Linked DNA regions of Homo sapiens. The protein of the gene in region 1 interacts with the protein of each later gene in a pairwise test. Each region holds a gene or a part of one and is shown on either strand. Other genes may lie near its edges.

The links.
Region 2: the proteins of DUSP21 (region 1) and KRT33B interact in binary tests that used the Homo sapiens proteins (3 or more experiments, as listed by UniProt).
Region 3: the proteins of DUSP21 (region 1) and RFX6 interact in binary tests that used the Homo sapiens proteins (3 or more experiments, as listed by UniProt).
Region 4: the proteins of DUSP21 (region 1) and BPIFA1 interact in binary tests that used the Homo sapiens proteins (3 or more experiments, as listed by UniProt).

Annotation. Positions count from the first base shown.
Region 1 is NC_000023.11:44,839,624-44,845,415, forward strand, and holds DUSP21 (dual specificity protein phosphatase 21), read left to right. Parts: upstream 1-4,397; 5' UTR 4,398-4,509; coding exon 4,510-5,082; 3' UTR 5,083-5,265; downstream 5,266-5,792. UniProt on the Homo sapiens protein: Protein phosphatase component of the sperm flagellar doublet microtubules. May act as a regulator of sperm motility by mediating dephosphorylation of sperm doublet microtubule proteins.
Region 2 is NC_000017.11:41,366,810-41,374,370, reverse strand, and holds the start of KRT33B (keratin, type I cuticular Ha3-II), read left to right. Parts: upstream 1-4,557; 5' UTR 4,558-4,620; coding exon 4,621-4,968; intron 4,969-6,380; coding exon 6,381-6,463; intron 6,464-7,561.
Region 3 is NC_000006.12:116,872,649-116,880,251, reverse strand, and holds the start of RFX6 (DNA-binding protein RFX6), read right to left. Parts: upstream 3,011-7,603; 5' UTR 2,977-3,010; coding exon 2,754-2,976; intron 2,457-2,753; coding exon 2,300-2,456; intron 2,290-2,299; exon of another isoform or gene 2,042-2,289; coding exon of another isoform or gene 2,040-2,041; intron 1-2,039. UniProt on the Homo sapiens protein: Transcription factor required to direct islet cell differentiation during endocrine pancreas development. Specifically required for the differentiation of 4 of the 5 islet cell types and for the production of insulin.
Region 4 is NC_000020.11:33,231,548-33,239,021, forward strand, and holds the start of BPIFA1 (BPI fold-containing family A member 1 precursor), read left to right. Parts: upstream 1-4,448; 5' UTR 4,449-4,503; intron 4,504-6,149; 5' UTR 6,150-6,164; coding exon 6,165-6,324; intron 6,325-6,507; coding exon 6,508-6,667; intron 6,668-7,474.

The DNA.
Region 1 (5,792 bases):
GACAGAGTCTCACTCTCTTGCCCAGGGTGGAGTGCAGTGGCACGATCTTGGCTCACTGCAACCTCCGCCTCCTGGGTTCAAGCGATCCTCCCATGTTCAAGCAATCCTCCACCTCAGTCTCCCAAGTAGCTGGGAGTACAAGCGTGCGCCACCATGCCCAGCTAAGTTTTGTATTTTTAGTAGAGACGGGGTTTCGCCATGTTGGCCAAGCTGGTCTCGAACTCCTGACCTCAGGTGATCCACCTGCCTTGGCCTCCCAAAATGCTGGGATTACAGGCGTGAGCCACCATGCCTGGTCGCATGTTCTCATAAGTCGGAGCTAAGCTATGGGTACACAAAGGCATGTAGACTAGTATAATGGACATTGGAGACTCATAATGGGCGAGGATGAGAGTGGGGAGAGATTTAAAAACTACATATTGGGAAGAATGTACACTACTCAGGTGATGGGTGCACTAAAATTTCAGACTTTGCCATTATACAATTCATCCATGTAACCCCAAACCGCTAGTACTCCTAAAGCTATTGAAAGAGAAAAGAAAAAAATTCTCATCACCATTAATGGAACAGACAAATAACATATGCCCCTGGTACGATGTACTGAGAATCACACACTCTGGTGGTCTTCTTGCAAAAAAAATTTCACCTGAATCTAATCCCGAGGGAACAGTCAAACAAATACATCTTGAAAGATGTTCTGCAAAACTGGCCTGAACTCTTTTTTTTTTTTTTTTTTTTTTTTTTGGAGACGGAGCCTTGCTCAGTCGCACAGGCTGGAGTGCAGTGGTGCAATCTCGGCTCACTGCAAGCTCCGCCTCCTGGGTTCACACCATTCTCCTGCCTCAGCCTCCCGAGTAGCTGGGACTATAAGCGCCCGCCACCACGCCCGGCTAATTTTTTTGTATTTTTAGTAGAGACGGGGTTTCACCGTGTTAGCCAGGATGGTCTCAATCTCCTGACCTTGTGTTCTGCCCACTTCGGCCTCCCAAAGTGCTGGGATTACAGGCGTGAGCCACCGCACCCGGCCAAAACTAGCCTGAACTCTTAAAAATGCCAATGTCCAGCAAGACCGAAACAAAATAAAAGACTCAGCAACAGCTCCAAATTTAAAGATGCTAAAGAAGCATGACGGCTAAATGCAATGTGTGATCCTTGATTCAATCTTGGATCAAAAGAAAAAAACAGCTATAAATAATATTATTAAAAGACTTGGTGAAATTTGAATATGGATTACGTGTTAGATGATAATATGGGGCCAATGTTAAATTTCCTGAGTATGGTCATTGTACTGTGGTTATGGAAGAGCATGTACTTGTTCTTTGGAGATATGTGCTGAAGGGCTAAATTGTTGCTATATCTACAAGAAACTCTCAATGTTTCAGCAAAAAGAAACAAGCAAATAAATAAATATGTGTGTCTGTATATCAAAATAGATAAAGCAAATGTGGTGAAGTGTTAACAATAGAACTATAGGTGAAGGGTAAACAGATGCTCATTGTTCTGTTCTTGCAGCTTTTATGTAGGTTTGATATTTTTCAAAACACAAACTTGGACACTATAAATAATAAGTAATAAAAACAAAAAGACTTTTCCCAGTCACGTTTTCTATTAAGCCTTCCATGACATACACCTACTGCCCCTGGCCCCCAAACACTCACCTAAAACAATGAATCATACCCTCTCTTCTGGACTCTTCCAAGGTTATCTATCTCTCTGACCAAAGTATAAGCTCTTGGAAATCAGGCCCTGTATTGTGATGGATCTACACTGCTAGGACCATACCTGACACAGATTGGATGCTCAGTTGATCCCGTTTTTAAATTAATCAAGCTGAGTCTTGAAGCTCGGATAGAATTCAGGAAGCAGAGAGGAGTCAGGCTTCTCAAGAGAGAGGAATGGCATGAGCAAAGGTAAGGAAACAGGAATGTACATTTTGTATTTACCAAAAGCGTTTGCTTTGTTTGGTCAGAACTGAGGGTTTATATAGGTGAAAATGCCTAACACACTATAGATTCTTAATAAAAATCTGATGAATAAATGAATGAATGAGATTTGAAAGGCAGGCTTAGATTAGAAAGGGCTTTGACTACTGAATTGAGAAATTTGAACATTAACTAGTTCTTAACATCCAGGGTGTTTTCCCAGCGGTGGAAAGAGAGTGTGTTATTGGGCAAGTCCATTGCACATTTTCTTCACTAAATAACAAGGAAAATTGCCTCCATCAGTGTGTTAAAAAAAAAAAAAAAAAAAAGGAAAAGTAGAGACAAGTGGGATCTGAAAGTGACCTGCTTCCAAACTCAAGGGGAGAAAACGTTATCTATCCAGGAAAAGCTCCATAGCGGAATTTTAAAACATCCAACATCCCTCAGACTAACAGGTGTCACAGAATATGAAGAATAAATAAATGAATCTATTTAACACGGGTCATGCTTGTCTTTGAAAATAGTGTCTGAGGCCGGGCGCGGTGGCTCATGCCTGTTATCCCTGCACTTTGGGAGGCCGAGGTGGGTGGGTCACCTGAGGTCGAGAGTTTGAGACCAGCCTGGCCAACATGGTGAAACCTCGTCTCTACTAAAAATACAAAAAATTAGCTGGGCATGGTGGCGCGAGCCTGTAATCCCAGCTACTCATGAGACTGAGGCAGGAGAATGGCTTGAACCTGGGAGGCGGAGGTTGTGGTGAACCAAGATCGCGCCACTGCACTCCAGCCTGGGCAACAAGAGCAAAACTCCGTCTCAAAAAAAATAAAAATAAAAAAAAGAAAAGAAAATAGTGTCTGAAATTATTTTGTTAATTGTACTTAGTTTTAAAGTTTAAGAAGTGTATACTTATGAAATAAGTAGACTCCAATACTAGTTTAGGGCCTCCACATTACTACATAGATTACAAAGCTTCTCCGTTAGCCCAGCTGAGCTGCCCCCAACAAACAGTTTTCATATTTATTTAGTATTCGTGTTCTATTTTCTTCCAGATAGCTTTGTGGGGACTGACAATTTAAGTAATGCAAAATAATTTGATTATGACAACTGAGAAAAGAAACGTGTGTTGTGTTTTGAGGTTATCATTTCCTTGACCATCATAAGCAGCCTGGTATCTATTTCATCTTTGTTCGTAATCACAGCACACCTTTGAACACATACCAAAATGATGATGGAATGAGAGCAAAGTATGTGAGTCAATTGGCTACTCTGTGAAACAATTTGTTAGTTTTAGGCTATAGTTCTTTTCAATTTTCAGCCAAATTCTATAAAAATCTTAGCTGGAAGGAAATGCAAATGTCAGGTTACATTTTAGAAATTAATTTTTGGGCTGAGTGCTGTGGCTCGTGCATGTAATCCCAGCACTTTGGGAGGCCGAGGCCGGTGGATCACCTGAGGTCAGGAGTTTGAGACCAGCCTGGCCAACATGGTGAAATCCTGTCTCTACTAAAAATACAAGAATTCGCCAGGTGTGGTGGTGCGTTCCTGTAATCCCAGCTACTCGGTAGGCTAAGGCACAAGAATCACTTGAACCCAGGAAGCAGAGGCCTGGGACTCTCCAGCCTGGGTGACAGAGCAAAACTGTCTCAATTTTTGGCCCAATTACCATGTAGCATTAACTTGTTTCAGAATGTTTAATATTACTGGGAAGACAGCATCGGTAGTGGTCAAAGTGATTTGTAGTTCACAAAGCATGTAGGCATTTTTTTTTGAAGAAAGTAAACAAAATAATTTGAACTGTTGTTTCAGGTAATAAAATAGACTCATGCGGTAAGTCATTTGAGCTGTATGTACAAATGGACTATGACACAGCTAAATTAGTCACAACTGTCCACCACAGGCCAACTTCAAGATAAAGGGCTATATATCAGTTAGCAATGCTCTCTTACAACCAGCCCTGATGTGTTTGTAAGCAGGAAAATAATTTTATGGTTACAATCAACAAAGAAGTATCAGGCCAGTCCACCAAGCCCAGCCAAATCCCATATCTCGCTCCAGTTTTATAGAGATTAGCATATCACATGAGCCAAATGCTGTTCCCCAACTTAGAATGTGATATTGCTATTTTGCAGGGAAAGTGTAAGCCCTGTTCTGCAACACTGATGAAATAGAAGTATTCATAGATCTTGTTTAACGTGGTCCAATAATTGAAACATAAAATAGATATCTTGTAACAGAACATTTTTAAAAGTCAAGAAAGATAAGAATTAGGCCTTGGAAAATAAATGACTATGAAGAAAGATAAAAAGAAAAGAGACTGGGGTGTCTCTGAAGACCCTGCTTAGAGGCCCTGTCCTCCTTGCGGCAAGCGGCCATTGCCATGGAAACCGGAGCCGCAGGGCTATCTGTCCGGGATTGTGACGCCCAGATGGGAGTGGTGAGAGGAGACAGAAAGAGGGTGGTGGCCGATAGCTGGTCCTCTTTCTCCAACACCTAGCCTGAGACTTGGCGGCGCGGCTGCTATCCTGAACTAGCTTGGTAAGTGTTGTGTCCCGAACCAGCGTAGAGAGACCTCGGACCAGCCGCCTTGATGACAGCATCCGCGTCCTCCTTTTCATCATCTCAGGGTGTCCAGCAGCCCTCCATCTACAGCTTCTCCCAAATAACCAGAAGCTTGTTTCTCAGCAATGGTGTGGCCGCCAACGACAAACTCCTTCTGTCCAGCAATCGCATCACCGCCATTGTCAATGCCTCGGTGGAAGTGGTCAACGTATTCTTCGAGGGCATTCAGTACATAAAGGTGCCTGTTACCGATGCTCGTGACTCGCGTCTCTACGACTTTTTTGACCCCATTGCTGATCTTATCCACACCATCGATATGAGGCAGGGCCGTACGCTGCTGCACTGCATGGCTGGAGTGAGCCGTTCCGCCTCACTGTGCCTTGCGTACCTCATGAAATACCACTCCATGTCGCTGCTGGACGCCCATACATGGACCAAGTCGCGCCGCCCCATCATCCGGCCCAACAACGGCTTTTGGGAACAGCTCATCAATTACGAATTCAAGCTGTTTAATAACAACACCGTGCGCATGATCAACTCGCCGGTAGGTAACATCCCTGACATCTATGAGAAGGACCTACGTATGATGATATCAATGTAAGCCATCCCGGCCAGCCCCTGACATCTGCCATCGATCTTGCACCAAGACTGAACTTGAACACTGACATTTTGTTAGTAAAGAAAACCGGATGGTGCCTTGTTAAAGGGCAAGAAAAAAGGGAGGGGGTTGGAGTTTTGAACGTAGTAAGCCTTACCTTAATAGAATTAAATTCATGAAACATAAGATAGTGAAAATATTTTTTATATTGTGAGGTCAAGCTATTGGGGCCTGGCTGGAACCAGGGTGGGGCAAGTAATGCTCAGCTCACATAGACCTGCCAGCAGCACCCAATACATGTGGCAGACCTGGAATCCTGAGCCCTGCCAGAGGCTGACTAACCCAGGAGTGAATCCCCTAGAATCTCACCCGGTTCTTTCCAACCCAAAGTCAAAGCCTTAGACATCTTGGCATCCCTTGCACTTCTCCCAGTAAGTGCCAACCTAGTGGATAAGTGGCTTTCATTCAAGCTGTGCTCCAGGAGCTCTGGAGGAGTCTCAGGCTACCCTTGCCCACCTTCAATCACAGTGGCCCATCTCTGGTTTTCTAGATCGGATTTATACATTAGTTAAAAAAAAAAAAACTAGTTTTTTAAAAGACCATTCCACTCCATAAAGTTTAAAAATATTGTATTTTTTTGACTGCTGTACTTGATGGCAAGTTCTCAAGGTGTCTTTGGTGATCTCCCACCGGCCTTTGTGAAAAGGGACATA
Region 2 (7,561 bases), on another chromosome or scaffold:
TGGGGCTCTCCAAAGTCCCTGATGTGAGGTTCAGCCTTGGTTTTGCCAGATCTTGAGGACAGAGATGACATCTGGTTGCAAGCAGTTTGAGAGGGAAGTGGAGAAGCACCTTAAAGGACACAGAAGTCAAAAGAAGTTGGAGCTCTAATGAAAGAGTTGTCAACAGCATCCAGGGCAAGGATGGTGAGAATCAGACAAATCTACTGGTTAAAGCAATGGGGAGACTCCTGGTGATTATAAAGAGAACAGAGTCTGTGGGAGGCTGAGGGAAGAAGCTGTATTTCCATGTTTTTTTCATGTCTGTCTCAAATCACCAACGTGATAGTGAGTGTAATGCAAAAGTTCAACACAACACATTTGTACTCAGCTGACTTTGCTTTATCTTCTGTGTACTGTCAAAAGGTTTTAGCATCTGCCCTCTCCCTTGATCTGCAGAGCAGGACACATATATAGGTTTTCATTCCATCTCTGAGTGGGCCCTGGATCCAGCTTTTTCAGGAAGACTAGCACCATTAAATTACATCGTCCTGGATTGTGTCATGCTCTTGTCTATTCTAGACTGAGTTGATAGTCTAGAGTAGTCAAAAACATAGCATAGATCTCGTGGGAGCTGAATGATGAGAACACGTGGACATATAGAGGGGAACAACACACACTGGAGCCTTCTGGAGGGTAGAGGGTGGGAGGAGGGAGAGGATCAGGAAAAATAACTAATGGGTACTAGGCTTAATACCTGGGTGATGAAATAATCTGTAAAACAAACTCCCATGACACAAGTTTATCTATGTAACAAACCTGCACTTGTATCCCTCAACTTAAAATAAAAGTTAAAAAAAAACACATAGCATAGATGAACTTTGTATTTTTCTGACTTGGCTTGGTCCCTGAAGACTCCAAGACTCCATTCCCATTGGGAGTCCAAGACTGAGTGTAAGAGAAACATGGTGGCTCTGGAGAGGATTTGTAGAACTACCTCCTGAGTTCCATTTTGAGGTGTTTGTATCTGTTTTTGCTCAGCGTAGCTTACTGCTGACCTGGCTCATTCTTCAGCCCCTCTCCTGCTTGTCCCTTATCAGAAGCCCCATTGAACAGGGCCAAACTTGTTGGCTTATTTCCTGAATTACCCCTTCAATTTCTCCTCTCAATGTCCTGAGGCTGGAGGATTGATAAATTGACAACAGTTGCCTTTATGGAACAGTTTGTGGAAGCCCTATCTTCTGCTCTTCTAGGAAGCTCTAACAGGCTGGCCCAAAACCATGGGCTGGGGTTGTTATTGGACAGTCTTTCTGCTTTTCTAATTCCCCTCTGGGATCCCTCTTTGGCAAAAAGTCCATCTTCTTGCTCTGTGTGCATGTAGTGATACTGCTCCTGGCCTCTCCTTCTCATTTGTACATATTAAAATATAATTAATTTTCAAGTAGCCCAATGTAACTTCGTATTTCTAAAAGAATAAATTTTACATTTCTCACGGTGACAATTTCAAGCACCAGAGCCTGGACATTGGAGAAGATGGCTTTGGGAAGAAGGAGGGAGGCCTCCTAATGCCTTTGAAGTCCCACAATGAGGAAGGTGGCCTCAGCAGAAGCCCCATCCTATGTCCACTCCGTGGTTAAGCATCGCTGGTGGGTTGGCATGTGATCTCTTCTATGGAAATAGCCCGGGCTTCCATAATAAATAGCATCCTTAAACCTCAACTGCAATTTGCTCACATCTTAAGACCAGAAGCCTCAACCATAGCATCTGCCGCTATTACATGGGCATGTATAAAACCTTTCGGTTTGTTAGGATTTGACTTACTTGTCATGTTTAATGAAGGGCCATTGAACAGAGACAATAGCATCACCCATGTAAAGATAAGAATTCACAGTACACAGCAAGTGGAGTAAGTAAAAAGCAATTGCCTTCCAGACTTTGTGAGAAGCTAATTGAAACTTGGCTCTTTTCTCCATAGACCCAAGTTCTTCCAACTATTAGTACATAATGGCCAAGTAGCTGTGCAGAAATTATAGTTACTTCTACTCAAGATGTGGGAATAGTTGTGTTTTCTAAACTCTGACCTCCACTTTTAAAGACACAAGGATACTTATCTCTGGATTATTCCACTGTGACTGAGGTAGAAGCTACAGCAATGGTTATAGGGATCCCTGTGGACATATTTACCAGTCTGTGACACACTATTCCTTCCCTTTTCTTTAAAAAGTGCCATTGTCAGATTTTTCCTTTTGAAGCTTGGGACGTAGAAGAAGGAGAGAAGAACACAAGGTAATTAGAGAAAAGCTAATGAATTCAGCTATTTGCTTTATGTTATTTGATCTCATCCAATAGGACTTTAATGGTTTGGTACTGATTTTAAACCAATATGCCCATGCCACATCTCACTGATAGTGGAATCATTTTAAAGGTAGAGATTCAGGCCGGGTGCAGTGGCTCACTCCTGTAATCCCAGCACTTTGGGAGGCTGAGGCGGGTGGATCACCTGAGGTCAGGAGATTGAGACCAGCCTGCCCAACATAGTGAAACCCTGTCTCTACTAAAAATACAAAAATTAGCCAGGCACATTACAGGTGGTGCACGCCTCTAATCCCAGCTACTAGGGAGGGTGAGACAGGAGAATAGCTTGAACCTGGGAGGCGGAGGTTGCAGTGAGCTGAGATTGCACCACTGCACTGTAGCCTGGGCAATAGAGCAATAGAGTGAGACTCTGTCTCCAAAAAAAAAAAAAAAAAAAAAAAATTAGAGATTCAGGCAGGAGGGGCAGAAAGTTGTGGATTGTGATTGTAGGGGAGGATATCAGTACCTTCAATGCATTCACCCTGGAAGACCACATGTTTGCCCCAAAGCTGCTGTCCTTTATAAAAGCATATTTGAAGCTTCTCCTTGGAAATGACTTCCAGAGTCACCCAAGAAAACACACATTATTATTTTGTAGTCACAACCTGTTTCTGACCCATTAAAGATGCTATGCAGCTTGGTTATTCACCCTATGCACTAGGTGTGGTTTCAAATGACTTCTGGCTGGTTCCAAAAATAAACACACCCATAGAAGATGAAGATTGGCCTTCAATGAGGATAACCAAAAGAATGTGTCCCAAGCTGTGAAGGCAAGTTTGAAGGAAGGGTGATCTGAGGAATGGCAGGTCACCTGTAGGAAAAGAATTCTTGTATGGCAAGACTTAATATGTAGCTTCCAAAAGGAACAACTTGGAGGAGTATCTTTCAGAATTTGAGCACTGATAGATTAAACATAAAATCCTCATATTTCATAGTTCCATCTGGAATGCATGAGAGTAGAGCATCTGCTTGCCAAAATGTGCCAATGGTCATAAAATGCCACTTCATGCACATGACATAGTGGTGGATTTTCAGGGTCATATCCTTTGGAGAGCTAGGCTTGGGTATTTCTCCCTCAGATCAACCAAGGGTTTCCTTTTTTTTTTTTTTTCAAGCTTCTAGTGGGTATGAGGCATTTTCACTTAGTAAACTTCCTTCCTTCAGCATAGAAGTGACTTTTGGTTCTTTAATAAGTAAAAAACAGGCTTGTTATTTTTTGGCCCATTCTAATTTAGGATATTGTCAGCACTGATTGAGCTCAATGGAGCTCAATCTGTATTTTTTGCATTATTGCATCTCAGTACTGAAAAGATTGGAAGAGAGAGACATGTAATATGACAGAGTGTGGACATTGGAATTAGAGAGATCTGTATTTGAACCCTGGCTCCATCATGTAGGAGCTCTGTGACCTTGGGAGACCTCTCAGAGGCTTAGGGTCCTTATCTACAAACCCTTGCAGCATTTTGAGAGGACTGAAGGAGCTGGTGCATATGAGGTGCCTGGCACTGTGCCTGGTGCACAGTGGAGGCTCAGCAAGCAGGACCCATCACCAATGACAGAGTCACGCTGTGCACAGGCATGGAGCACAGTGCTTCATGCAGAGTAGGTGCTCCCAAAATTTAGGTTTCTTAATGTTCTGTGAACACTGAATACTAGTAGAAACGGAGGTGGGTGGCTTCCTGCAGCCCCATAGGAAGAGGGTAGAGTTGCCTCCATCTGCCTGGATGGAACTGCAAATGGGCCTTGAACCAATGGCCTTGTAAGTCCTTTCTCATTTCAGCTTCCAGGATTCCCTATCACATAGTCTAGTTTCTAGACGGGTTTCCTTACATGGCTTTTCTCACAGAGTCTTAATTGAATATGAACTGGATGAGACACAAGCCTTTCCTCATTTAGGAGAAAGAGGCACATATGTGCCCCCTACTCTGGGGACAGGGCCCAGCTGTCACTCTAGCTCAATGTCCCATGGATAAGCACTGCTACAGGCAAGGTTGGTCACTTTGAAGCCAAACCATGAAGCTCTTACTTAACCAATCAGCATGTTTTGTGAGGAGTCCTGACTTAGCAAGAAGCCAGAGTAAAACATTTAATGAGGTATAGGACTCAGGTGAAGTGGCTAAATAACAAATGGAAAAATCAGCAAAGGAGGTAAAAAGGAGGAATACTTGACATGGTTGCCACACCCACTGCTAACAGAATATAAAGCCCTGGAAAGGACCAAGGCTTATCCCAGGGAAAAGGAATCAGGTTTTGAAACTGACTTCCAGAGCTCCACTGCCTCCCTGCACCATGCCCTACAACTTCTGCCTGCCCAGCCTGAGCTGCCGCACCAGCTGCTCCTCCCGGCCCTGTGTGCCCCCCAGCTGCCACGGCTACACCCTGCCCGGGGCCTGCAACATCCCTGCCAATGTGAGCAACTGCAACTGGTTCTGCGAGGGCTCCTTCAATGGCAGCGAGAAGGAGACTATGCAGTTCCTGAACGACCGCCTGGCCAGCTACCTGGAGAAGGTGCGTCAGCTGGAGCGGGACAACGCGGAGCTGGAGAACCTCATCCGGGAGCGGTCTCAGCAGCAGGAGCCCTTGCTGTGCCCCAGCTACCAGTCCTACTTCAAGACCATTGAGGAGCTCCAGCAGAAGGTGAGGAGGTGGGCACCACACTGCCAGCTTAATGAACTACTTATCTATATTTGACATACTAAACTGTGAATGGATCTAAGTCTGTTCACAGTAATGCTGAGAATGATAAAGACATAGATTCACTGGCTTAGGTATGACATCAAGTAGTCTTAGAAAATCTGTTGTAGAGCCACAAAGGAAGGATGCAGGCTGGTGTTAGAGTGAAGCATTAGACCAAAATCAGTCATAGCAATCTTATATGGCGTCTTACTCCAAACCAGAATATCTGATTTTTTGGTTTGATTATGATACCCTGGTTTTGTTTTCAGAGCATTACCGCATTTTCAAAAAGTATGCACCTGAATTATTTTCTATGCTAAGAATTTCCTAAGTAAATCTTCAAATATTTAAAGCCTTTCAAAGCTGTAGCAAAATATAGCATTTATGGCAACACAAGAGAGCTGTTGACTCCAGCAATATCTACAGACACATGGACCATCCTCTAGAGCAGCCATGTGTACAGATGACAATATGGGGCCATCTGTTCTGGAAGAGAAGTAGATATAAGTAAAGAGTCCACAGAGAATTGGGACTGAATACCTGGTGTAGGTTTGGGAGGGATCCCAGAAGAGGCAATGTCTGAGTGGGGTTTGAAGGATGAGTGGGAGTTTATATCCAATTGTACAAGCCCTTGATTCTGGGAGGGAATTGACTGCCCACTGTTCTGTAGATCTGGAAAATTAGATGCCAGAAAGGGGTTGTGCTATTTGAATATCATTCATTTATTTACCCAGAGTTGGAGAGTGTTAGGCACAGTGCTGGGGTGGGGGATAATGTACTGAGTAAGACAGTCTCCTTCCTTCAGGAGCTCACAGTCTAACAGGGGAGATAGATGTGGAAACAAAATGATCACACAAAGGTCATAAGAAGTGTTATTGATTAAGTATGTGGGTTACACAAGGGGTCTTGCTAGTGGGTGAGGGCATTCTGGGTACAGCAAGAAGCTTTTTGCAAAGGCATGAACAAGGGCAATATGAGGGGAGAGTGGAGAGAAGTTAGCAGGTGGAATGTGTTGGATAACCAAGTTGTTCTGGCTTGCCTGGGATTTTTCCCATTTTAGCATCCCAGAAACCCCTCAGTCCTAAGTTAACTGGGATGGTTGGTCACCCAACCGAAGGGTTGGATACCCAGTAACCTAATTATTGCAGGAAGCCAGAAGCAGATAAGAATAGAATTCATGATGAATTCACATTGGTTGTCCTGGTTTTGAAATGATCAGTTTTATGATCAAATCCTCCTTTTATCTCAGAGCTGAAAATCTGAAAGGACTCAAAGCTATTTGGGAGGAATGTGGCTGAAAGAAAATAGCATTTCACTTTAAGGCACAAGGCATTTCTTAGTATAACCCATTTCATGATTAATCCTATCCCCAGATCCTGTGCAGCAAGTCTGAGAATGCCAGGCTGGTGGTGCAGATCGACAATGCCAAGCTGGCTGCAGATGACTTCAGAACCAAGTAAGATTTTCCTAACCATCAGAGCAGTCTAGTAACGGACAGGCTGAATTACAAAGTGATGAGCTCCCTATCCTGGAATGTGGAAGCAGAAATTTCTATTGGGAGGATTCTTGCATTGGGTTAGGATTAGGTTAAATGTCAAAGCCTCTTCAATAGGTGCTCAGATTCTGTGTTTTAAGTTTTTTTTTTTAATTTTTTTATTTTGAGATGGAGTCTCCCTCTCTCATCCAGGCTGGAGTGCAGTGATGCAATCTTGGCTCACTGCAACCTCCGCCTCCCGGATTCAAGTGATTTTCCTGCCTCAGCCTTCCTCGTAGCTGGGATTACAGGCATGCGCCAGCAGGCCCAGCTAATTTTTATATTTTTAGTGGAGACCGGGTTTTACCATGTTGGTCAGGCTGGTCTTGAACTCCTGACCTCAAGTGATCCACCCGCCTCAGCCTCCCAAACTGCTGGGATTACAGGCGTGAGCCACTGTGCGCAGCCCTGTGCTTTAAGTTTGATTGTAAGACACCATCCATTCTTACTCCTTTTCAACCCAACGTCTGGAGTAAGTTTGAAAGTGATTTTCACATTGGTCTCTTTGTATACGTTAGTCACTGTCAACCCCCCAAAAAGAAGTTATTAAACCACAAAAACAGGAGGCAAAATCCATTGCCTTTCAGAGAATCAATCAATACTTTTAGGTATGACCATTATTACAATCATGAGAATCCTTTGCATTTTCCTGGGATCTTACATTTTACAACATAATTTTACATATATCATCTTCAGTCCAACCCTATAAGGTGTTAGTTTTGTCTTCATTTTACAGTTAAGGAAATCAAGCCTCAGAGAGATAAAGGTATCTATCTACAGTCATTTAATGAGAATACTGGCTCTAACTCTGAATTCAGTGTTTCTTCCACAACACTAGATTGCTTCTTGGCAAGGCTGGAAAGGATGACAGGACAACCTGGAGCAGGCTTATGAAGGGCACTGATTCACTTGAGATGGCAAAAGCAGCAGGGCTTAGTTGATAGTAACTTGTAAACGAGAGTCTTAGAACAAACTTAGTTTGTGTTAGACTAAACTATCCACAGGCATTCCACCAATACC
Region 3 (7,603 bases), on another chromosome or scaffold:
ATCATGATTTGCTCTGTGACATATAAATATGAATGGTGAAATTGAAGATGATGGGTATTTTTTAAAACATTCTTAGTACTAAAGGGCTGTCAAGCTTCAGGTTGGCAAATGCTTACATTCTCTCACTTTCATTCAAAACCTATTTCTCAGCCCTGAATAATTAGGGAAGGACAATGATGCATTTATTTGCAAAACACATGAGGATAAACTCATTTTACTTAAGTCTGAAATGACACTGATATATTTCTATTCCTATACTTTTTACTACTGTCATCAGTACTATAATTATCTAAAACATCCTATACACTTAAAAGATAATGTAATTCTCTATAGATATCTCCAAACATAACATATATACCTTCAACTTTATATTATAAAAATAACTATATAACCTTTGAAAATTTGAAGTAATTCCATTTAATTTGTAACTAAGCATAACTTATATAAATGTAATAAATACATATTTGTGTTACAACTTTCTAAACAGCAATGTAGAAATTAAACTTTTAGATTCCAATCCCAGTTTTCCTAACAGTTCAGTAGGTGATTTTGACTAAAATTTACTTATACCAATTTTATGTATAGTAAGATAATATTTATTATAATGCAGAAACGATGCAATATAGAGTCTGCAGATTAAAATTGGATGAAACCCTTCAAAGATTTGATTTAAAATATCCTAATGTGTACAAGATAAAGGCTAAAGAAAGTATTCCCTGAACAGGTAAAATATCACTCATTTTTTTAATGAAGAACAAAAAAAGACCAAAAACTAAGATCTAGTGTTTCAAAATATGAAATCAATATATGTACATAAAATCAGTTGACATACTAGTTGATAGTGAAAACTGGAATTAATCAGCCAGCTTTTTCACTTTGATTTTCAGTTCTAGTTTATCTATTTAAAAATTATATTTTAATTACATGTACACAATGTTCACATTTCATCTTGCTATTTTGATACTGTTGTAGTCGGCATTGTCTTTGTCTTCAAAATATTAAATCATCCTAGACATAAGTATGATGTTCATTTGGGGTACAAGTTTTTTCTTTGATCTTAACTTATATATATTTATGTATACATTTATTCATAAAAGAAACATATATTTCCACACACTCAATTTAAATGGAAAAAATGGAGTAATCATTCGAAACAGCTCAATAATATATCTGAAATCAAAACACTTTTGCCCCAGTTATCCTGCTGCAAATAGTTGTATCCTAAATATCCCAGATATTTAACTCAATTACTTAACTGCTCTAGTATATTCTTAACTAGTAACCACGACATCAACTTCAATAGTTAAACTCCAACTTTAGATGAATATTTGGCTTATATTTCAAATATTTTGAAAGGGTTCAAGCATATAATCACAAAAAACTACTATATGTAAATTGTAATTTAATATTTAAATAAATAATAAAAATAAAATTTACTAGTTCTTTATCTTGTATTTTTCTAAGGCTCCTTAGATCATACTTTACACAAAATTAGGTTATGTAACTAATCAGTAAATATATAGTCCTTTTTATTAGTTTGTTTTTTACTTGGAATTTGTGAGGAAATTTATGCTCCTATTTCTTCCCACTACGTAGGAAAGTTTAATATAATGCTTTTACTTTAGAGCCGTCTTTCTTTTAGATAGATATTACAAAATGTTCACTCTATGTGGAAATCCTACTGATAAATTCTTGGTTTTAAAAGATTTTCCACAAAATCCAATTTGTAATATTTTATTATTATAAATCATATATGATAGATGGTATAAAAATAGTTGAACTTCTATTTAAGTTAGTATAGATATCTTAACCGATTTTTTCTATGTCTTCTACCTCAAACACAGTTCATCTTATGGAGTATACACTATTTTTAATTTGCCCTCTTTTGAATAAAGGCAGTGTTAAGATCCTTCCTCATTTTAAGTTGTTTTTAAGAATCATATTTTATAATCTCAAAAACTATCAAACAACAAATATGTAAGGACTGAACTGATTGCATATTAAGCCAGTAAGTCATAAAAACGTTCATTAATGCTTACATTTGAAGAAAATATGGTTTTAGTCAATAAGGAACAACGTAATGTGGTTTTCATTTGTATTGCAAATCCTTCACCAGTACTTGTATAAGTCTCTATACTAAAAATTCAGTGAAAAAAATTCTGGGTTAAATTCTAATTGGTTTTTTAAACTTTCCCAAAAAGTTTGAGGAAGAAGTAAATTGTGAAAATCAAAGATCCTGAAGACGCTGGCTGTTAAAACGTCAACAGGTGCTTCAGTGTACCCTGCGGGCGAGTCTCACCACTGCAGCGTGAGCTGTGTCTGCTTCTTTTTATCCTTCACAATCTGCGTGATGGTTTTCTTCTGAGACAGGTATTGATCCGCTGCTTTGGTTTTGCTGTCGTGGTTGTCGGCGTCCTCTTCTTCAGAGGAAAAGTTACCATTGTTTAAGTGCATTTCTGATTGCCAGTTGAAGGGATGATAAAGAAAAATAGAATATAAAATCAACTAAGTCGCCTTTAAGTGTACCTTAACTTCAAAGGAGTAGCCTACTGGGGTGGGGGCGGAGGGGAGGAAAGGGGGGCTATGCAAAATGTCAGGTCTCTACTTGACATTTTACTGAGGAAATACAAAGATTTGGACAGAACATTCTATATCTGCCTTATGTTTGTTCGGGATGCATTATTATTATTGGGTGCCCTTCTTAGAATACGTCCCCGTCCCCTTCCCAGCTCCGGATGCGGCAGAGCACTCACCTGATTTCACTGCCCCCGGCAGCTCCGGGTCTTCGCCTTTCTCCCCGCCGCCCTGCTCGCCCCCGGGCTGCCCTTCGGCCGCCAGGTACACTGTTTCTTCCGGATAGACTAGCAAGCCCTTGCCCAGGAGCTGCACACAGCAGTCTTCCTGGATCCCCGGGGACAGTTGGGGCGCAGGCTGCGCCTGCAGGAAGGTGTCTTCCAGCTCCGGGACCTTGGCCATCCTCCTGGCCGCCGGACACCTCCGCGCGCGCCGCTCGGCCGGTTCCCCAGCGGAGCCCCAGCCCGGGGCGGGGCGGGGCGGGGCTGGGACCCGGGGCCGCAGGGGCGGGGAAGGAGGCCGCAGGCTCCGGGGTGCCCTGGCTCAGCGCAGAAAGGACGCCGCGCACAGGTACAGCCCAGGCCGCCCGGGAGCCGCGGTGGGCCGCGGTGGGACTGCGTTTCTCCACCTGTCTGCGGTCCCGGCAGATGCTCCCGCGAAACTCACTTTCTCACCTGCGCCTGTCACGCCCTGGGCGCCCACAGCTTCCCCCTCCTTCCCGTTCTCTCAACCTGCGCTGGCCGGAGGACCGTTTTCACACTCAGAGCTCCCAGAAAGATCCCGGGAAGGCTCACTGTCTTCTGCAGGGAAAGTGCAGCTGTAACTGGCCCCATCCCTACTTTCAGGTACACTATTGGGGCACCTGGCCGCGCGGCGTGGACTCTGCACGCCTGGGACAGGGAAAAAGTACACCGGAGTACCGCTCAGTCTTTGCACAGCAGGGACCGGGCTTTTTATTCTGGGAACCTTCCGAGGGATTGGCGAGGGCTCTTCTCAGCATTTGAGGGAAGATCCCATCTCGTCACACACTGCTTTGCTCGAGGGTGCACAGTGGCCCGCACTCCTGGGTCTCCCAGCCCTGGAGGATCTGGCCTCAACCCCGAGAAAAGATTCTTTCTCTCCCATTTACCATTATTTTGTAATTTAAACGCGTCCCTGACGATTACTCATCTCATACCTAGCAGTACGGCAACGGACGTTTGCTTAAGTGAAAAATGAAATTGCGACCATCTTCCAACCCAAAATGGCAATCTCATGGGGGCAAACTATAATCTGTGCTCTCTTTAGACGGGAGCGGTCAGTGGAGACTTGGGATTGGTGTTACCTGACTGCCAGATCATCTTCCTTTCCTTCCACCTTCTGTTCTTTTGACAAATACGCCCAGTGTCTTTATATGTCCAGTGCTCTCCAACAAAAGCAAGGATTCTGCTTTGGATCACATTGCCTCATCACAACCTACAGCATGTCATCTTCTCTTGCAGCATTAGAGAGAGAAATCAGCCTTCGACTTTGACAATATTAAACTACATTACATTGAAATTTAACATAGAACAAACAAAATGGGATCCAAGGTGGTGGGTGGCTGAAGGGTGAATTATGGGAAGGAGCGATACAGTCTAAGTAATACAGCAAAAGCAGCTAAAATTATGAGTGGATTTGAATCTCCCCATTTTTAGTACCACTTGTTGGGAAAGGCAGCAACTCTTTGTCAAAGGTTTTCACCTTATCTGGTACCTCCAGCAGCTAGATCCAGGATGGGGCTACCCACCCCTCCACACTCCTAAAGTGGGTATACCCCTCCAGTGCTTCAGGACAACTTTGCCAGTTTTCTCTACCCAGTCCTCCGAAAGCCTCAGAGCCTGCTCAGACCAGAGGGCTTAGCTGTATGTACAGTACTAAAGTTTAGAATGTTGCCTCTTTACAGAGATACCCTCAGATTCATTCTGTAAAGGGAGTCCCAGTGATTAACTGTGTCTACTTATATGAAATGATAAGAAGAAAAATGTTCAGGAAAATTACTGGAATTTCTTTTTTAAAATACTAACCATATGATAATGTGTTTGTGTGTGTGTGTGTGTGTGTGTGTGTGTAAGTCATACAGACACTACGTGAAAATCTGGCAATTATCCAATTGAACAGATCATTGGAAACAAAAACCACGATCAGTTAAGGCCCTAAGTGAACTTTTTGCCTTAATTTTAAGTAAATCTGTTTGCCTAACAAAATAATGTGAAAGTTATTTGTGCTTCTATTCAAAAATAGGAAGTCTAAATAGGCCTATAGCAAGTAAATAAATTTAATCAGTAATAAAAAAACTTCCAACATAAAGAAAACACATGATGAGATAGCTTCATGAGTGATTTATACCAAACGTTTAAAGAAGAATAAATGCCAGTTCTTCTCAAACGTATGGTATGTGGTGAAAGCAGAGGAGGGGAAAAGCTGTCAATATTCTAAATTTGCTATTTGTAATTATTATAACTAATCTGAGCTCATGAGACTAGTGTTTTAGAAAAGCAGCTCTAGGCAGGAAAATAGGTAAAAATGGAGAATGATCTTTTAAAATAGTGATTTGTAAGATGTTTATTTTTTATATACTCTTTAAGAAATTTTTGTAAGCTATCAACTGTCTCCCAGGGGGAAAAATGCCCATGAATACGCTAATGTAAAAATTTCTGCTTACAGTTTAACAGACTGTAAGTAAAAAAACCTGAAAAAGTTTATTCTGTTTTAAGGAAAAAAATAAAAACACATGATGTCTGAAAGAAGATTCTTTGAAGTTCCCAAATTACAGGGTCTTCATGACTGGAGGCACAAGAGTAAAGGGGAAAGGAAAAGGAATTTGGAGTCAGGTACATTTGCACTCATTCTCTTTGTGCTTCTGGGCATTTAACCTTTCTGTGCCTGTTTCCTTCTCTCAAAATTGGAAAAAAATAGTACATATCTATAGTAGATTTTGTGGGTGTTCTGCTCAGATCCCCTTGGATTTCTTCCACATTTTCTGAGCACCCCTCACCCTGTTTTTGCCTCCTTTGGTTTCCAATACCAGCCCCAAGACCACCACCTGAGAGCTCCTGGGACTTTTCTTTGGAGGAACTGCCCTTAGCTACCAGACCACCATTGCCCATAGGCAGATAGAGCCTAGGTGCCCCTGAGTAGCACTTAGCCAATGACTGATGGTTGAGAACCTTGATCTCATGTTGGATAAATCTGAGGTACAACTTACAACCAGAGCTCCTCTATGGGATCGGACTGAAACCATCTCCCACTAGACCATTCCTAAAATCCCATCTGTGTTGGCTTCTTGCCCTCCTCTGTCCTGCTACCCCTACTCCCTTTCCTGTTTCTCCTGGCAACACTTTCTTTAAATTGCTTTTGTAGAAAAATACTTGACTCAAGTCCTGCTGACATAAGACATCACATTATAGAGTTGATATAAGCATCAAATGAAACATTATAAAGAAGAAACTAGTCCAGTGCCTGAAACAGAGTAAGCCTTCAATAAAACATATCTAATCTTTTTATTCTGAAACTTTAGATCTCTTTTAGTTCACATAAGCAAGGAAAAAAAATTTCTCTCTTTCACTGCAGAAGAATTTTGAGGAACATCTCCTTGCCTAGATTATTTCTGGGCATAGTATTATCTGGAGTGATCATATACTATGAAATTTTCTTCTGTGAAAGTTCATGTCTCTCCTAATTTGTTTTTCTGTTCACCAAAATTATTTTATAAATACGGCAAGTACTTTGCTTTCTGTTAATGAATTTCATTTTGTTTCTTTCAAATAAAAGTAAAGTGAGGTTATGAACCTAACAGCAGAGCCCCAAAATACACGAAGCAATAAATACCATTTTTTGATAAAGGTACTAACACCATTCAGTGGAAAAAGATATATAGCCTTTTCAATTATATAACCACATCTAAAAGAATGAGTTTGGAACCCTACTTCACACTATATACAAAAATAAAAATGGTTCAAAGACCTAAATATAAGAGCTAAAACTGTACAACTCTTGGACTAAAACCTTGCCTTAAGTCTTTATCACCTGGGATTAGGCAAAGGTTTATTGAATGTGATACAAAAAGTACAAGCAATAAAAGAAAAAAGGTAGATAAACTGAACTCCACCAAAATGCGTGCATCAAAAAACACTATCAAGAAAATGAAAAGACAACACACAATGGACAAATATTTTAAAATCGTCCATCAGAATATATAAAGAACTCTTACAACTCAACAATCAAAAGACAATAGCCCAATTTAAAAACATGTAAAAGATTTAAATAGACATTTCTCCAGATAAGATATATAAATGGCTAATAAGCACATAAAATGCTCAATATCATTTTCATTAGGAAAATGCAAATCAAAACCACAATAAGGTATCACTTCACACCCACTATAATTTTTTAAAAATGATAATGAGGTTGTGGAGAAATTGGGACCTTCATACATTGCTGGTAGGAATGTAAAATGATACCACCACTGTGGAAAATAGTTTCACAGTTCCTCAAAAAGTTAAACATATGATCCAGTAATTCTGTTCCTAGGTAGATACTCAAGAGAATTGAAACATAAATTCATACACAAAGCTTGTGTAAAAATGTTTATAGCAACATTATGCATAAAAGTTAAAAAGTCAACACAACCAAAATGTTCATCAGCTGTTCTATACATAAACGCAATGTGGTATATCCATACAAGGGAATATTATGCAGTCATTAAAAAACAGTGAAGCTGAGGCTGACGGATTGCTTGAGCTCAGGAGTTTGGGACCAGCCCGGGCAACATGTCAAAACCCCATCTCTACTGAAAAATACAAAAATTAGCTGGGCATGGTGGTGCATGTCTGTAATCCCAGCTACTCAGGTGGCTGAGCTGAGATCGCAGCCACTGCACTCTAGCCTGGGCAACAGAGCAAGATTTTGTTTCAAAAAAATAAAACGAAACAAAACAGTGAAGCAATGATACATGCTTCAATATGTATGAACCTTAAAAACATCATGTCAAGTGAAATAAGCCAGATAT
Region 4 (7,474 bases), on another chromosome or scaffold:
AGTGAGAGGATCACCTGAGCTCGGGAGGTCGAGGCTGCAGTGAACTGTGATGGCGCCACTACAGTTCAGCCTAGGCGACAGAACGAAACTGTCTCAAAAGAAAAAAAAGAAAGGGGGTTGGCAGGGGAAGCGCTCCACCAACGGGAGGGCTCCAGGGAAGATGGGCAGGTGCTTTCTGAACTGAAAACTGTGATGCAAACTTGCACTTGAAGTAAGAGCACTGAAGCCCCAGATGACAGTCTGACTTCACCTCTTCCCAGCTGAGATGACCCTGTGCAGGTCACAGCCCTCCTTGAACCTCAGTTTCCCCACAGGCTTGTTACAGGTGGCATAAAGCTCTAGTGTCTCACAAAAGGTTATCATTAGTAGTAGTATTTTTTTTTTTGCACTTTAAAAGCAAGTGCAAAGATTAATCTCAAAAGCAAGGGGAGCTTGCCTGAAGCAAACCCTACTTGAGAATATATATTTTTTTCATCTAAGTTGGGGTTTCTGGCTCTCTGGGAATGCTCTGGAGCTTCCAAGGCCATCTGAAGACCCTCTGCAACTCAGTCCCCACGCTGACCTTTCTCCTGGGGAGGAGATCCTGCATCCCATTCTCACATTCTGGAGAACAGACCTTGCATAGGTCAGAGCCCTTTGAAAAATCAAACCAATTCTGCCCTTTAGAAATGGATCTTTTTTTTTTTTTTTTTTTTGAGACAGAGCCTCACTCTGTCACCCAGACTGGAATGCAGCGGCATGATCTTGGCTCACTGCAACCTCCGCCTCCCAGGCTCAAGCAGTTCTCCTGCCTCAGCCTACCAAGTAGCTGGGTTTACAGGTGCGCACCACTAATGCCCAGCTAATTTTTGTATTTTTAGTAGAGATGGGATTTCACCATGTTGGCCAGGCTGGTCTTGAACTCCCGACCTCAAATGATCCACCTGCCTGGGCCTCCCAAAGTGCTGAGATTACAGATGTGAGCCACCACACCCGGCCAGAAATGGATCTCTTGATTGACAAAACAACCTGAGCAAAGGCTCCCAAACACAATTGCAACCTGAGAAGCAGGAAGGAAAGGCACCACCTACAGTTTCTGAGAAACACATGGAGAGGGTATTGACATCACCAGAGTGGGGAAAACCTCTTGAAATGTTCGTGGTGTGTCCTTCCACTTGTTTCCTGGTGCCCTGAGACCTTTCCCCTGTTCAGGGCAGGGAGCATGCAGTCCCTGTGGCCACAAGGAAGGGCAGTTTCAACAGAAGCAGAAACAAGGCTCTTGACTTTCAAGAGCCTGGGTTTTTGATAAAGTGGTAGTGACAGAGAACAAACAGGTGGTTGCCAGCAGATGAAGGCAGGGTGTGGCTGTAAAGGGACCCATGAGAGTGCCTTTGGGGGGATGGAACTGTTCTTTACCCTGATTATGATGGTGGCTGACTATACATGTGGTAAGACTCAAAGGACCATACCACTAAAAGAAGTCAATTTTACTGTAAGTTTTTTTGTTTTTATAGTCTTGGCTTTTGACTTGTTAAACTCAGGGCATAGGAGAGTCTGAGAACAGCATACACACAATGAAGTTGAAGCAAATCTTCCTGCCCACAAAACTAGAAAATGCCCTATGTTGGGTTGGTGAAGTGTGAGGGTCCAGGAGAACTGGAAGGAGCATAGTTCTGGTGGGTTCTGATGGTGCCTCCGTCCCTTGCTGCTCCCAGGCAGACCTGAGCATGGGATGAAGGGAACAGAATCCCAGGCACATGTATGGGATCCAGGGACAGAGGGCGTCTGTGTCCACACTCCCTCCCAGAGCCAGAAGAGGGCATGAGACCCCAGGGAGAGAAGGGTAAAGGGAGGGTCTAGGTGGATCCAGGCAGGAGGGCTTGGGCAGCCCCTCACAGTCCTGTATCAGGCCCAAGGAACTGGCGAACAGCAGAACAATTCTGTGTCTTACAAACGAGTTGAAAGTAAATGCTAAATCCAAAGGGACCTTTCACCAGGAGGGAAGTACAGTGTCTCTGCAATCTAGGGGCAGATGGCACATGGCTGTCTCCTATATTGCCAGCCAAAAATAGGGACAGGCAGCCTCCTTGGTACAAACAAAGCCCCTAGCACAGACATGAAACCCCAGGGGGAAATTGGGACATTTCTGTTCCTGAGCAAAATGGCATTTGAAATGGTAAAGTATAGATAAATCAGAAAGATGTGTGGACGCCTGAGTTTATGAACTGTGATTCATACCAGCTCCCCAGACATCATCTCCCCATAGCCCTGTGAGGCAGATTTTATGCTCCCCATTTTACAGGTGAGGAAACTGAATGAAGTTCAGGGAACTGGACTGACTTGCCCAGGGTCGTAGGATTTGAACCAGGGCTGTTTGAGCCCAAATTCACCCACTTTCTGCTGCAATACAGACACAGCCTCCCGGCCTCAAACCAGAGGGTGTAAGCTTTCATTAACTGGCTGCACAAACTCTACTAATTCCTTGCCTTATCTGCCTCAGTTTCCCCACAAGGATAGTAGCAACCTGACCCAACCCACAAGAGTTATACGATGGGACCACTGTGAGGATGATTGCCATGTACAAGATGTGGGCAGAGTCCAGCAAGTACCTTGAATGGATAATTAAGTTCAAAGCCATGGCCCCAAACCCTTGGGGGCACCACCCAGACTCTGGAGAGCAGTGGAGCAGGCCAGTGAAGGCCTAGTGTGAGGGAGGCAGTGTGGCCCACTGATTAGCAGGGACTCAGACAGACACAGAGGGTGGCAGGGTCAATTGACTCCAACACTCACTCGCTGTGTGTCCCCAGGAAGCAGTCACCCTTTCTGATCCTCAGCCTCCTCATCCAATGTATGAGAGACAACAATACCAACCACTCCTGAAGAAGATGAGGTTCAAATATGGAGAGCACCTGGCATGCAGTCAGTGCTTAATAAAAGCACATTTATTCCTTCTCTCTCCACTTTTGCTTATAAGGTGTTAGGTTTTGCAGGGTAAGAGCTGCGCTCACTGGTCCAGGACCTTGGCCTTCCTGTGTCTTCACTTTTTCATCTGCTGAACAGACTCCAAGGGCCCCAGTGGTGGGGATAAATAAATGCCTGATTACTCCATTTAGGGAAAGGTAGAAGAAAGGGTAGGATAGAGACCAGGATGCCAAAGGATCCCTCAGGCCTGGGAACCTGGAAAGACTTTTCCAGGACCTAAAAGAGAAGCGGCGGGGCACTGTGGCTCACGCCTGTAATCCCAGCACTTTGGGAGGCTGAGATAGGTGGATCACCTGAGGTCAGGAGTTCGAGGACAGCCTGGCCAACATGGTGAAACCCCATCTCTACTAAAAATACAAAAACTTTGCCAGGCATGGTGGCGCTCGCCTGTAGTCCCAGCTGCTCAGGAGGCTGAGGCAGGAGAATCACTTGAACCCGGGAGGTGGAGGTTGTCATGAGCTGAGATCACACCACTGCACTCTAGCCTGGGCGACAGAGTAAGACTGTCTCAAAAAATAAAATAAAATAAAAATTAAGTGAAAATTTAAAAAATAAAAAGGGACGCATGAAAGTGTAAAGTTCACAGGTGGGGAAATCAAAATGGCCAGCAAGTGTTGGGAGGCACCTTCATCTCTCAGTGCAGTGATTCGGGGAAAGGACCTGAATGTGGATGTCTCACCCCAGGCAAGCACTGCATCTCTGGACAACTTGCCTCACACTCAGCCTCAGTTTCCCCCTTATAGAATAGGAGTACAGGGTTGTGAGGATTTTGTGAGATGCTGCCTGTGAACACCATGGCAGGCCAGGCATACAGCAGGAGCTCGGCCAGTGTCTGCTGTTGGCGTTGTTTTTGTTGTTTTCATTCTCCAGTCAGTTGCATTCTAACTCTGCTGCATCCTCTCTGGGTCTTTCAGCACTTGTCCCCACTGGATCTCAGTTTCCTCCTCTATAAAAGAGGAGGAGTCACCTCTCCCTCTCAGGGTTCTTGTGAGGACAGAGAGCTCCTGACGTGCAATAGGGGCTCTGAAAACAGGAGACCCTTGCCCTGGAATGGAGACGCACCCCAGATGTAGGATGCAGTGTGACTCTTTTGACATTTTAGGAGAAAGAATCCTCCAACTGGAGCAAAAAAATTAGAGCAGGAGAGGAAAGGGGCCAAGAGATGAGACTGAGGTCCCTTCCTGGGCTCTGTCTGGCTGCTCCTTTCAATGCTCCAAGCTACCTTGGGAGCGTGGGTCCCCAACCTTGGCTCCGCTCAGGAAACCATAAAGTCTTGAGTAACATCCCATCTCAGGTTTTTCTCTGTTTATCTTGTTGACCAAATAGCTTAACTGTCTCACCTGCTAATGTGATTGGCAATTATTTACTTTGGAGAGCCCTGAAAGACACTGTCAGATTGCAGAATTCTCAATTATCTAGAAACCCATCACCCAACACATGCTTCCTCGTCCCCATACTATAAAAGAGGCTGACTCCTCGGCAGAAGTGAGTGGGGGAGAGAGAGGAGACCAGGACAGCTGCTGAGACCTCTAAGAAGTCCAGGTAAGAGCCATCCATTCTGTGGCCCCTCTGCTACCCTTAACGGCAGGGATCTCAGGCTCCTGCCCTGTGGGGCAGTGAGTGATCTTGATCACTCACTGGGGGCTGTGCAAGAGAAACAGACCTGGCCAATGTCAGGGATGTGGGGATGGCCATTTGCTCTGCTGTCCTAAGAGACCAGTAACATTGATATAGAAATGGGCACTATTAATGCCGTAAATGAAAGCCTCTAAGGCATAAGTTTTAGCTTGAGGTTACCAATGTGGATACAGATGATCCAAAAACCTCCTAAAATTCTTCACCCAATTTTATACATTTTGATGCATTTTTTCTGAGACTAGGATCTTTAGCTTCCATTGGATTCATAAAGGGTCTGTTGCCCAAAAGAGATTCAGAGGCTGTGGTCAAAGTTACCTCCCTAAGAAGGGCACAACTGGCTCTTTGGACCAAAGACCTTTCATTTCCAGCCTTCCACCACAAGGATGGAGCTTTAGCTGAGTCAGCCAATAGATGGAATTTTGCACAAAGTCACCAGTTGTCTCCAAATTGTAGGTACTAGTGCTGGCTCTGGACAACTCTGCTGGCTGCCAAATAGACCTGTGAGAGGTCTGCAAGCCAAACCTCAGGGGTTGACCGGAATTCCATCCAGGGCAGCTTGAAGGAGAAGAGAAAGGTGTCAAAATGATAGAATGCATGTTTGTGTGTTGGGTGAGGGGAGGGTTGGGAGACCTGCCTTCAACCACAGCTCTGCCATCAATTTATTGTATGACCTTGGGAAAGTCACTACCCCTCTTTGGTCTCCTGGTTCTTCTCATGCAATGAAGACTTTGATGGCCCCAGGAATTCCCCAACAAAGGTCTACATGAGATGGTGGCTGTGGCCATGCGACCCCTGTATTGTGTGACTTTCAAGGGCATCCACCAACCATCATGGCCTGAGCTCAGGCCAAAGGACTGAACAGGGATGATCTAAAACAGTTCAATTCTTCAGCACTTGCACGTTTAACCCTTCTCATTTGCTTTGTCTGAAGAGCAGCAATGATTCAAACCATTGAAGCAAGCCCGATTGGAGAATAAATCTGATGGTTACTTAATTTAACCGAGGGTTCACCTGGCTCTAGCTTCTAATCCTCTGTCCACCGTGTACTTGTGACCTTGGGGAAAGTTACCCACACTCGGTAGTACACAAGTGGGTTTCAAGAAGGGATGGGAGTATATTTGAAACTCCCAACTGCAAACTCACTTGACCTCTGTGAGCCTTGGTTTCTCCTACTGGAAAATCAGACAAGTGAACTGTGGGCAAGATGGAGTGAGGTGAGGCTGGGATTCTTGGCAAGAAGGAAAAAAACCCTCTTCTTTGGAATGTGGTGGAGTGGGGCTGTCTCCTTTTTAGGCCCCTGATCAGTGGTCCTCACCTGTGCAATGCAGGTAACAGGTGCCCATGTCTTAGGGTTGTGATGAAGATGAAATTGTGTAAAGTGGTCAGCCTGTTGCCTGGCAAAGAGAAATTGTTCAGCAGTATTAGCTATTACTAGTGACCCCCTGGTGTTCTGGGGAGCAAACAACCCCACCCCCCAGGTGTCAGGGCAGGTGGTGGATAAATTCCTCTCTGATACCCATGCCATGTTGGACTTGTCATTCTGGCCACAGATACTAAGAGCAAAGATGTTTCAAACTGGGGGCCTCATTGTCTTCTACGGGCTGTTAGCCCAGACCATGGCCCAGTTTGGAGGCCTGCCCGTGCCCCTGGACCAGACCCTGCCCTTGAATGTGAATCCAGCCCTGCCCTTGAGTCCCACAGGTCTTGCAGGAAGCTTGACAAATGGTGAGTTTTCAGGGGTGTATGTGTGCATGTGTGTGTGTGTGTGTGTGTGTGTGTGTGTGTGTGTGTGTGTGTGTGTGTGTCCAACCCTGCAAAGTGGGGAGGGACAGGGCTGGATGGGGGAGGGGGCCTGAGGATCTGGAATTGTCAGATCTGACCCCCAGAGACCCTTACACCCATTTCCAGCCCTCAGCAATGGCCTGCTGTCTGGGGGCCTGTTGGGCATTCTGGAAAACCTTCCGCTCCTGGACATCCTGAAGCCTGGAGGAGGTACTTCTGGTGGCCTCCTTGGGGGACTGCTTGGAAAAGTGACGTCAGTGATTCCTGGCCTGAACAACATCATTGAGTGAGTTGTCCTAAAATAGAGCTTTGATCTCCACCAGGGAACCCCAGGTGAAGATCTGCCAGCCCCAGGCAGTGACCCTGAAGCAGCGACCCTGAAGCAGCGAGGGAGCGGCCTGAAGATGGAGCCAGGACTCAGTTCTGAGACCCATCTCCAGTTTGGCAGGGACACCCGTCCTCCCCAAACCAGCAATGCCCTCAGTTCTAGGCATGTCCTGAGGCCCCAGCATCATCTATAATCCTCACCACAACCCTTTGAGGTCGATTTAATAATCTCCAGTTTGCAAATGGGAAAACCAAAGCACAGAGGTGCCTGTGTTCACGCTGCTAGAGTGATGCCAAGTGAGTAAGGCTCTCACTCTACTATCCTAACTCCAAAGCCAAGGCTCTTCCCACTACACTGTGGTCATTTTGTTCTCTGCACCTGTGAAATCCCTTAGAACACAGACGGCCTTTGATGTTAGCGAGAGTATAACCTGCCCACCTTGATGATATCAATGTGATGAAAAACAGTGTGATGTCCATGGAAAGGTCTAACGTGGAGTTTCCCATGAGACACCCAAGAGCTCGCAAAGCAAAAAGCAAGAATGGAAGCTTGATGCCAGTGAGCCGGCAGAGCCTGGTTCCTGGATAGGACTGGATCAAAGCCATTTCCAAAATCCTACCCACCCAGGGTCTCACTCCCTGACTTGGAGACAGACAGACTTCTTGACTTTGATTTTCAAATGTACTTGTTGGATGACCTGGGACAGGACACCCTGTCTCTCTGTGCTTGGTTTCTCCATCTGTAAAATATAGATTATAGAACCCA